Homo sapiens: one gene and its partners. The protein of the gene in region 2 purifies or fractionates together with the protein of the main gene of each other region. This does not show direct contact. Each region holds a gene or a part of one and is shown on either strand. Other genes may lie near its edges. The genes, in order: PKM, MPG and EXOSC9.

Evidence for each region.
Region 1: the proteins of MPG (region 2) and PKM purify together in Homo sapiens (affinity purification with mass spectrometry, with the first as the bait; one study listed by BioGRID). This does not show direct contact.
Region 3: the proteins of MPG (region 2) and EXOSC9 purify together in Homo sapiens (affinity purification with mass spectrometry, with the first as the bait; one study listed by BioGRID). This does not show direct contact.

Annotation. Positions count from the first base shown.
Region 1 is NC_000015.10:72,217,597-72,221,245, forward strand, and holds part of PKM (pyruvate kinase PKM), read right to left. Parts: coding exon of another isoform or gene 3,572-3,649; intron 1,515-3,571; coding exon of another isoform or gene 1,502-1,514; coding exon 1,348-1,501; intron 1-1,347. UniProt on the Homo sapiens protein: Catalyzes the final rate-limiting step of glycolysis by mediating the transfer of a phosphoryl group from phosphoenolpyruvate (PEP) to ADP, generating ATP.
Region 2 is NC_000016.10:76,597-80,345, reverse strand, and holds the start of MPG (DNA-3-methyladenine glycosylase), read right to left. Parts: upstream 2,122-3,749; 5' UTR 2,037-2,121; coding exon 2,013-2,036; intron 1,208-2,012; exon of another isoform or gene 1,054-1,207; coding exon of another isoform or gene 1,015-1,053; intron 922-1,014; coding exon 646-921; intron 1-645. UniProt on the Homo sapiens protein: Hydrolysis of the deoxyribose N-glycosidic bond to excise 3-methyladenine, and 7-methylguanine from the damaged DNA polymer formed by alkylation lesions.
Region 3 is NC_000004.12:121,804,323-121,807,971, forward strand, and holds part of EXOSC9 (exosome complex component RRP45), read left to right. Parts: intron 1-299; coding exon 300-437; intron 438-3,217; coding exon 3,218-3,300; intron 3,301-3,649. UniProt on the Homo sapiens protein: Non-catalytic component of the RNA exosome complex which has 3'->5' exoribonuclease activity and participates in a multitude of cellular RNA processing and degradation events.

The DNA of each region.
Region 1 (3,649 bases), on a different chromosome or scaffold from region 2:
CTTTTCCTCTCCCAAATAGCTCAAAAGTCTTTAAAAAGTGCATGGAAGGCTACTACCGTGCCAGCTTACTTTCTTGATCTACTGGGACACTTCGACCATTTCCTTCAAGTTCTGCAGGCTCCCACTGTATCAGAAAAGCCTAGGTTAAGACTTGGCCAGCCTTCTCCACCCTCACTGAAACCCAGCCAGATGTCCAACCACAGAATCTTGGTAGCACAGAACATGTTAGAAAGATCTTTCCTAGGTCTTTAAGTTGCTCCTACAAAGACCTGCTAAGGAAAACATCTTCTAAATTTTGCCTATAGCATAAAACCTAAACCATATGGATTCTTTTTGCAACAAATTATTTTTTATTATAAACTGGTAATTTATAATTTGGGTTACAAAGTTATGTAATCCAATACATACAGTTTGGATACAATGTGGAATAATTAAATCAGGTTAGTTAACATATCCATGACTTCAAATACTTAACATTTTTGTGGTGAGAACATTTGAAATTTACTCTTAGCGATGTTTTTTTCTTTTTTCTTCCTTTTTTTTTTGAGGCAGAGTTTCGTTCTTGTTGCCAAGGCTGGAGTGCAATGGTCAGATCTCAGCTCACTGCAACCTCCGCCTCCCAGGTTCAAGCAATTCTCCTGCCTCAGCCTCCCAAGTAGCTGGGATTATAGGTACCCGCCACCACCCCCGGCTAATTTTTTTGTATTTTTAGTAGAGATGGGATTTCACCATGTTGGCCAGGCTGGTCTCGAACTCCTGACCTCAGGTGATCCACCTGCCTCAGCCTCCCGAAGTGCTGGATTACAGGCATGTGCCACTGCGCCCGGACAATTTTTTTTTCTTAAGACAGGATCTCGCTCTGTTGCCTAGACTGGAGTGCAGTGGTGTGATCATGGCTCACTGCAACTTCAATCTCCTGGACTCAAGTGATCTTTGTCTCAGCCTCCCATGTAGCCAGAACTACAGGTGCATGCCACCATGCCCAGCTAATTTTTTTTTTTTTTTTTTCACTTTTTGGAGAGACAGGGTCTAAGTTGCTCAGGCTGGTCTCAAATTTCGAGGCTCAGGCAATCCTCCCACGTTGGCCTCCCAAAGTGCTGGGAGCCACCATACCTCGCCATCTTAGCAATTTTGAAATGTCTAATACTCTCTTATTAACTGTATTTGCCATCCTATGCACATACTAATTCTTTACTGCAACTTCCTATGACCTGAGTCCTTTCATAAGAATCTGTGTAGTATCCCATGTAGCACCTAGGTTTGTTAGGACATTTAGTTACTCTTTTCAGGAGAGAAAGGTCACTGCCCATGAAGCCCTTTTTTGGGGGAAGGGGCACACCCACTCACCAATGGTACAGATGATGCCAGTGTTCCGGGCTGTGATGGGTGGTGAATCAATGTCCAGGCGGCACATGTGCTCCAGGAATGTGTCAGCCATGGCTGCGTGCAGCTGCTGGGTCTGAATGAAGGCAGTCCCGGCTTCACTATGGGGCTTCGACATGGCTGCTGAGGTCCTGGGTCGAGACAAATTGAAAGAGAGTGGTAAGACTGAGAAGTGGTTAATATACCATTTAGCACAGAAGGCTGTCTCCTGCTTACACATTAACTCAATAAGCACGCTTTGTACACAAGCCACAGGGAAGCCAGACATGATCTGGTTATGTGGGTGCTCCTCATGTTAGAAAAAGGGTTCACCAGATTGTGAACAATGGAAAGGACCTTACTGAACAAGTTAAAACCTCCCACCCACTCCACATAGTCCCAAGCACCCACAGTAAGCAGGTCTCTCTTACACTGGGCTGACTGACATCTACCTAGACAGCTTTCTCACCACCCTATCTATAAATAACATCATTTAACATGCACTGAAGGAGCTTCCAATGAAGGAAGTTGTAACCAATCTTCCAGTGATACAAACAACTGACTCCTAGCTTAGTGCCTTGATAAGCCTAGATCTCTGCATGTCAAGCTGTCACAAAGCTACAAATAGCTGCTTTGTCGTGGGGCACCCATATTGCCTCTTTACAATCCTCACCCAAACCCAAAGTCATTCCCCTGAATGCAAAAGCTTCCATCCCAGGAGTCTAAACCTAAAACCACATCTACTGTTGGCCAGAAGGATGTCAGGACACGCAAAGCAATTTGCAATTTGCAAAGCAAGGATAACATAAGGGCACTGGTATAATTCTGAAATTATCACAACTACATTAACAGGATAGTTGCAAACATAGAGAAATTAAAGTTGCTGGTCAAATCTTTTCCCCAAATGATTTTTGATACACATCCTGATTTCTTTTCTAAGCCTGACAAGTATACCACCACTCTGTAACACAGACCATCAGTTCCAGGTAATTAACTAGCCCAGGTCACAACCCTGACAATGGCCCCAACCTTTGCTTTCTTCATTAATGACTTACAACTAAACTCACTCAGCCTGTTAGTTAGCTGATTAGAGACAAAAACTCAGGAGAAGCTTCCAGGCAGTGTTTGAATAACTATCAGGTAAGGATGTGAACCAGACCAGGCAGTGTTTGAAGAACTATCAGGTAAGGATGTGAACCAGAAGCTTGCTACACGTCTCATCAGAAAGCTGTTTCCTTGAGTTCTCAGACCAAGGGCTACTCTTTCTAAAACGCTTGAGCCTAAATGCTTCGGCCAAGCAAGGCTCAGGAACAAGCTCCTCTTTAGCCCTTCCCCACCTCATCCTAAATCTCAAAGTTCCAAATCAAGGCATCTCACACATATGACCCTTACTCCTTTACCCTGTTCCATCTCTGACTTTGTGGGCTCTCTGGGTGGCTCGAGTAGAGTATACATCTAAATCCATCTCTGCCATCTCCAAAGAAGGCCCGCTGAGGTCCAAGGAGCTCTGAAGGCAGTAGTGAACAGTCTGTTGGCTATGGAAAACTGATGGCCACAAGTCCTCAACCACAGATTCTAAAACTTTTAAAATGGGGAAATAAGATACCGGCTAACGGTTCAACATGGCAAATGCACTCTTCATTTCGATGTGTATTTCCTAAGCCCCTAATATCTACTACGTACCAAAATGAAAAAATCAATCCTCCCTTCCAGGACCTATATGGTTTTGTATCTCCTAGCACCTAGTATGTGGAAGCATTCCAGTGTTTGTTAAATGACCTTTCAGTCTCTCTGAATGCCTCTTTGTCAGAATCAAAGTTATGCCTCTGCTCCCCCTTCCCTAAATCTGAGGAACTTCTGCATTACTGACAGGAAAGCCTGGGGCCCCTGGTCCCTTTCCCTACACTCATGGTTGAGGGAGGGCTCGCATACCTTCAGAGCTCCCAGCTGGGCTTAGGGAAGTCTGGCTGTTAAGGGAACATTACTGAGAGATGGCACATCAGGCCAACTGGAACACAAAGGCTTTGCTGTGGCCTCCAATGGGCCTACAATCTAGGGACTGTATTGTGAACAAAATAAGATCTGAATAAGTGGGTTGGAGTAACTAATTCCACTCTTTTTAAAAACCATCAGCTGGCTCTTCTTAGACCTGAGATATGAGGGTCTTCCTGTAAAGACCTGGCTGGGGCCACTGAATATCAGGTCATACCTTTGGTTCTCTGGGGTTGGGCTTCCGGTGACATAATGCTCCCCTTTTGGCTCAGGGTGGCTCCTTGGCCTCACTAGC
Region 2 (3,749 bases):
AAAGGGAAGGCCTTGGAGCCTCTGGAGAACCAGAAAGGCAGGCCTGGGGCTTTGGCATCGAGGACCACCGCCACCACCTCGCTCCCAACAGATCCAGCCAAGATGCCACGGCTGTGTGAGCATCTGCTCGTGGGGACAGGCTGCACCGTAGGCCCCACCAGGATGGGACCTGGGCAGTCCCTGCTTCTTACTCCAAGTCTGATTGGCAGAGCCCAGATCCTTGACCTACATTAAGCTGCAGGGGCCCTGGGAAGCCAGCACTGCACTGTGAGCCACTACAGCGGGAAGGGGCAGCCCGACACTGGCCACAGCCACAGTTCCCACGTGTGGAAAAACTGAGGTGGATTGCCGGTGAGGAAGGCTAACGGTGCAAGTGCTCCTGCCCTAGATGCCCAGAGCCGGGGGCAGACAGTGGCACCCCTGCTCCACCCTGGGCAAGCAGCACTGACAATCTCTACATTCTTCCCAGATGACCTCAGGCAACTGAGATGAAGCTAAGCAGGGACCAGTGTGAGCAAAGCCGCTAAATGCATGAGGACAAGGAGGACTAACTGAGGGCCAATCCAGCAGGCAGCGGACAGGGGTTCAGGGACAACTGCAGTGACAGGCACTTCAGGAGGGCCCTCGCTGCTATGTTCACATTACCTGTCCCAGAAATGCCCGGGCCAGGGGGACTGCCGGCTGGTCGAAGAACTCCAACCCCAGTCGGGTAAGGTGGCCCTTTGGGCTTGAGAAATAGATGCTGCGGTATGGGCCCGGAGTGGTGGGCGGTCCCAAGCAGCGCTCCCTGGGGCAAGGTGCCTGGGCTGCATCGGACGAGCTGTGTGGCTGCTCTGCAGGTGCCTGGGCTGCGTCGGACGAGCTGTGTGGCTGCCCTGCTCTAGCTGGTCGCTGCTTCTTTTGCCCCATCCGTCGGCAAAACTGTAATGGGAAAAAAAATAAATAAGCATCCGAATAGGAGACAGCTGTGTGGTAAGGTCAGGCTCAGGAAGTGCAAGGACTGGATCTGACCACCTGCTTTGGTTTCTTCATCTGCAAAGCGGGGGTGACCATCCTGTGGGTTGTTATGAGGCACAAACACCCTGACACACTCGAGGCCTCAGGAAATGATCACGTCTGACGATGGACGGCTGCTGCTGGGGGCAGGGTGGCTGCTCTGCCCCACATATGTGCGAGCTGCACGGCATGGGGGCCCAGGCTGCATGACCTGGGGAGCAGATGGGGGCCTGAGCCTGGGACAGCAGGGCTGGTGCCCTCCGATTCCCACTCATCATGCAGGTCCCAAGCAAACGTCTGAGCTGGTTTCTGGAGCCCTGCCCTTTCATCCAACCCTTGCCAGAATTCAAAACACAGGATCTTAGCAGGGCCAAGGTCGGACACACAGGGAGGGGTGAGCACCGGGGTGACCACCGCGTGCTCAGGGTCCCTAACTGTCCTCTGCTTCATGGCCCAGGCTGGATAACGAGCAAGTGGGGCAAAGGCAAGGTCTCCTGAGGGACTAGGAGGGTCTGCTGAGACCGAGCAGGCCGCCAGCCTCCCACCTCTGGCCTCCCCATGGGTAGGGGGAACCTAACCACACATCCTCGGCTGTCCTGGGGCAAAGGAGAAGGGAAGATGAAGGTGGCGGGTGAGCGCCGGCCTGGCAGCACCCGGAGGGCTGGTCTTTAGCAGCACCTAAGTCCTCCTGGCATGGGAGAGATGCATTATTTTTAACGGGAGTGCTGACGTTAATGTAGAACGGAGACTGCCAGTCGGCCTGGAACGGACGCTGACGTGACCGTCTCCGCAGCTCGGCCCGCGCTGCCAGCGCGCCGTGGGTTCAGCCCCCGGGCGCTGCGGCCACTGCTCTCGGCCCGAGCTTGGCCCTTGGCCTATGCTCTGGCTCTGCCCCGAACCCTCGGGGCGGTGGGCGCTACGCCCGTCCCCGGCACTCCCGCTCCCGCGGCCGCGCTCGCTGCTGCGCCTGGGGGTGGGCGCGTCTGTTCCGCGGGGCGGCCGAGGCGCGCGCTCACCTGGGCCCCGCTGCGCGCGGGCATCCGGCGGCTCGGGCCGGGGCTTCGTGGGACTCGGACCCCGGCGCGGAGCCCAGCAGCCGCCGACCACGGAAGCACCCCTAGGACCGGGGCGGAGCGGCGCCTGCGCAGAAGGGGACGGAAGCCGGGAGAAGGGGGGCAGTGAGCGCCGGGAACTGGCTGCGCCCCCGGGGCGGGGCGGGCCACGTGGAGGTGGATCCTCTTCCCAGCGCCCACCGCCAGGTCCGGACCGATTCCCGGGCCCGATGCGGTGCCTGCGAGGCGAGAGCGGGGAAGGGGCACCTGGGGGTGGGGCGAGCCCCGCACTGTGCCCCGGCGCCCCTCCCAATGAGCTGTCCGCCCCCGCCTGCGCCCTGGTCGCCTGGCGGCCCCAGAGCCCACTCCACCAGCCGGTGGTCAGACCACCGAGAGGACGGGCCCGTCGTGAACCTGAGTGGATCCTCGAGGGGCCCGGGCGGAGTGGTCGTGCTTTGGGGGAGGGGGCGGGCCGCAGACGTGTTTTCCGGTGGGGTGCCAGCGGAGTGAGCGCCTGGGAGGCCGCCCCAGCCCTGGTCCGGAGTGGGCCGGGGAGTCCTTATCCAGGAAGTGGACGCCAGGCTTGTGCGGAGGCCCCCGCCCCTGGCCGGGGTTGTCACAGGCTGGTCGGGGGAAGGAAGGAGGGAGCGGCGCGGATTCTGCCTCTGCAGCAGAGCCCCCATCCCTCTTTCCGCCCAGGGATGCTGAAGGGAGCTCGCCCACGTTCTGGGTTGGGCCTGCTGGAGCGCAGGCAGCCTCCTCTAGAGGCCGAGGCCAGACCAGGGCTGAACACGGCCCGGCAGTGCGCAGCCGTCCTACGCTTCTGAGGCCTCCCCGACGGCCCAGCGCCTGTAAGCTCTCACAACCTCTCAAGTCAGATCCATGCCCCTAGGGAGGGGCAGGGACGGTGCTTGGCCCAGTGGACGGAAGGGCCTAGGGGACGGGCCCTGAGGGAGCTGGGCACACTGCTGGCTCCCACGGCCCATGGCAGCCCCAGCACCCAGCAGAGCCATCCCCCGCTTCTGGCCACTTGAAGGTTTATCTGGGTCTGCAGGGCCCCTCCACTGTGGCAGGCACAATCCCACCCCACAACCCACCTCTGCCGCACAAAAACCCTCGAGGGGCTTTTCCTGAGCTTTGACTTCTGTGACCCTGGTCCTGGAAAGGAGCACCTGAAAAGGCCTTGAAGAGCAACTGGGCACCTGGCCGCGTCAGGTGGGAGACGCTGGGCAGGACAGACGCACAGGCCATGTGTCTGGAGCCCTCAGATGAGTGTGACACCTGGTCCTACAGAAAGGCTAACAGGGCAGGACCTGGTCTCCAACTGCCTCTCCTCCTCTGACCAGCCGTCCCACCCCCATGGGCCCCAGCCAGGACTTCCTGGGGAGGGAGGGGCCATCAGCCGGCTGGAAGCCACCAGCTGTTTGTAGCACTGTGTGCCGCTTCCCGGGGTGGGGGCATAATGTGTCATCAATCCGTGTTTATAAAGCAGCCCTGGATGTGATTCCACACCCTCCCTGCTTATCTGCAGCCATGCCTCCCAAACAATGAGTCTCTCCTTCCTGTGGGAACAGCCCCCCATCCCCCCGAGTGCTCCCCCTCAGTCTAGTAGGGAAACTGAGGCCCCAGTTGAGCCTTTGTCCTCTTGATGGGCAGGGAGAGGATGGGTGTTACTTTGTACTTATATTTATTCTGATGTTA
Region 3 (3,649 bases), on a different chromosome or scaffold from region 2:
TGGTTTTTAACAGACATGATAAAAATGTAATTAGATTTGAGGTTAGGAAAATCGTAGTATTAAATGTTAGAGTGGTTCTGTTTATTTAAAGTATGTGTTCTGTTGTTAAACGACCCACATAGTATTTCAGATGTTTGGCTTAAATTTTCTAAAATATATTTTTTGTTGACAAAGTACAAGGAGTAACTGCGTGTTTTAACAGCAAGAAAAAATAATTTGTACACAATGTTACTTTTCCTGATAAATAGCCACTGGTTGTAATCAGTTAGGATTTATTTTTATTTTAAATTCACTATCAGGTTTGGCAAATACGTGTAGACCTACATTTATTAAATCATGATGGAAATATTATTGATGCTGCCAGCATTGCTGCAATCGTGGCCTTATGTCATTTCCGAAGACCTGATGTCTCTGTCCAAGGAGATGAAGTAACACTGGTAAGCTCCTATGTGAACCAGGATCCTTGATATGAATGAATGAGGAGGGTCTTAAATGTGCAGGCAACTTGTTTTTAGTGAAGTTATGTTGTAGATGGCAATTGGGTCGTTTCTAAAAATTTGTTTGTAAGACTGAAACTGCATATGGTCAAAATTGCCCTGGAAATCTCTTAACCGTTCCTCTGTTGAAACATTTGTCAGTAAGAACATACCCTAGCCTGGTTTTCCAGAATAGAATTAGATGACTATTTTGGATTGAACATTAGATGAAGTGGTTGACTTATGTTTAGGGGCCATATGTGTGAAAAATACATGAATCTCAGCACAGTGAGATGCTTACCCTGCAAGAGGCATGCAATAGCTGAAAAGCACTGAGGAATCAGCAGGTTCATATTTGTCTCCAGGACTTTTGTTCATTAGGCAAAGAGATGACGAAAGTCCATCAGAAATACCTGGAGGGCTTGTTAAAACGTATAGCCAGACTACTCCCAAAGTAAAACAGGGCTAGGACTTAAGATTTTGTACTTCTAACTTTGAGTTCTTAGGTAATACTGATGTTGCTGGTCCAGGGAGCACATTTTGAAAACCATTGACCTACGTTGTCTTTATCTTTTGTTCTGAGTATGTCAGTTTTGATTTATATAAATTACATGCTAGAATAGTGAAAGTGCACTGTAGTTGTAGTTTGAATCCTGAAGTTGCAAAAGGACACATCAGATGCCCAGATTTTCTAAGCAATGATTCATAATTTTGATTTTGGGCAGTAGACTGAAGCAGAACCATTAAAAAGTGAGAAATAGGGACAAAGGTTTATTAACAGTAGAGGTAATATTCTTTTAGAGGAGGGAGTTTATATAAGGAAGTGAAAAAAAGTAGAAAGCGATTACTACACTTGAAAAATCAATTAAAGAATACTGTGGTGTTATTGCTAGTGGGAATGTAAAATGGTACAGCCATGTTGGAAAAGTTTGGTAGCTTAAGTTTTAAGTGTAGACAGCATTCTATATTCAGAAAAATAACAGTAGAAGAAAATATTCTTTTTTTTTTTTCTTTTTTTTTTTTTTGAGACAGGATCTCACTCCGTTGTCCAGGCTGGGGTGCAGTGGCGTGATCTCGGCTCACTGTAACCTCTGCCTCCTGGACTTAAGCAATCCTCCCACCTCAGTCTCCTGAGTAGTGGGGACTACAGGTATGTGCCACCCACTTGACTAATTTTTGTATTTTTTGTAGAGATATGGTTTCACCAAATTGCCCAGGCTGGTCTCGAACTCCTGGGCTCAAGTGATCCTCCCACCTTGGCCTCCCAAACTGTTGGGATTACAGGCATGAGCCACCATGCCCAGCTGAAAACACTCTCTTATATGTACATCTTTCAGCAGGTTTGACCTTGTAATTTTTTTTTTTTCTTTTGAGACAAAGTTTCACTGTTGTTGCCTAGGCTAGAGTACAATGGCGTGATCTCGGCTCACTGCAGCCTCCGCCTCCCGGATTCAAGCGATTCTCCTGCCTCAGCCTCCCAAGTAGCTGGGATTGCAGGCATGTGCAACCACGCCTGGCTAATTTTGTATTTTTAGTAGAGACAGGGTTTCTCCATGTTGGTCAGGCTGGTCTTGAACTCCCAACCTCGTCCACATCGGCCTTCCAAAGTGCTGGGATTACAGACGTGAGCCACTGCCCCCAGCCGACCTTATAATGTTAAAACAAACTGCAATGGCTTAAAATTAGAAAAAAAAAAAAAAATTCTAGCAATTCCATGCCTAAGAATCTACGGGAGGAATAAGAGCTTACTACGTTCAGAGACTTCAATGCAAGTGTTCATAGCATCATTTGTTAGCCAGAAACTGGAAACAATCCAAATGTCCAGCTGGTGAATAGATAAAATGTCATATATACAAATAATGGAATGCTGTTCAGTAATGAAAAGAACTGAACTACTGATAAATGCTGCAAGGTGCATGAAACATGCTAAGTTGAAAGAAGCCAGGCACAAAACATTACAACTTTTTTTTTTTCCATTTATATAGAATGCTCAGAAAGTCAGATTTATAGAGACAGAAATAAGATAGATCAGTGATTCCTTGGGGCTAGGGTGGGAGTACACCAGACTCCTACGGACTACAGACAGATTCAAAGGAATTTTGGGGAGTAATGGAAATGTTAAAAAACTAGATTGTGGTGATGGGTCCGTAAATGTATCCATAACTATACATTTACTAAAAATTGAATCATATACTTAAAATGAGTGGATTTTGGCTGGGCGTGGTGGCTCACACCTGTAATTCCAGCACTTTGGGAGGCCAAGGCAGGTGGATCACCTCAGGTTGGGAGTTCGAGACCAGCCTGACCAACATGGAGAAACCCCGTCTACTAAAAATACAAAATTAGCCGGGCGTGGTGGCACATGCCTGTAATCCCACCTACTTGGGAGGCTGACATAGGAGAATCGCATGAGCCCAGGAGGCGGAGGTTGCCGGGAGCTGACATCTTGCCATTGCACTCCAGCCTGGGCAACAAGAGTGAAACTTCATCTCCAAAAAAAAAAGTGGATTTTATGGGATGTAAATTATGTGTCAGTAAATTTTTGAAAAAGCTTTTTGAAAAAGTTGTACAGTTTGAGGAACGTGAGTGGCAAAATCAAACTGGTAATTAATTAAAAGAAGTTATTTAGGTACTCAAAAGAATAAAGGAACTTCATTTTTTAGTATTTGATGTGCAAGATGATTTTTTTGGATGTTCATAACTTAGTGACTATAATTATTAAACATTTTCTTTTGAAACAGTATACACCTGAAGAGCGTGATCCTGTACCATTAAGTATCCACCACATGCCCATTTGTGTCAGTTTTGCCTTTTTCCAGCAAGGGTAAGCCTCGCCTTATTATGGGCCAAAATTACAAATGCAGCTAGGAATTTTATTGCTCTACTCAAGTATGTCATGTTAATATTAAACAAACACTTCCCTTAATAGTAAAGCACCTTGTATTTCCTTTCTTTCTTTGTAAGGGCATTAGTTGGCAAAGAACTTTCTCAGTAGAAGTAACAAAACTCTTATACTTTGATGAAGATACTTCCCAACATTTTTCTTTTCATGGGATACTTATAAACTTAGGAATTTACTATGGCATGGTAGTGTTTTATGTTTCCTAAGGCTGTACAGTGGTTAAGAGAATTATATGCTAGGCTCTAATTTGGGACAGTGGGGTGAGAATTAC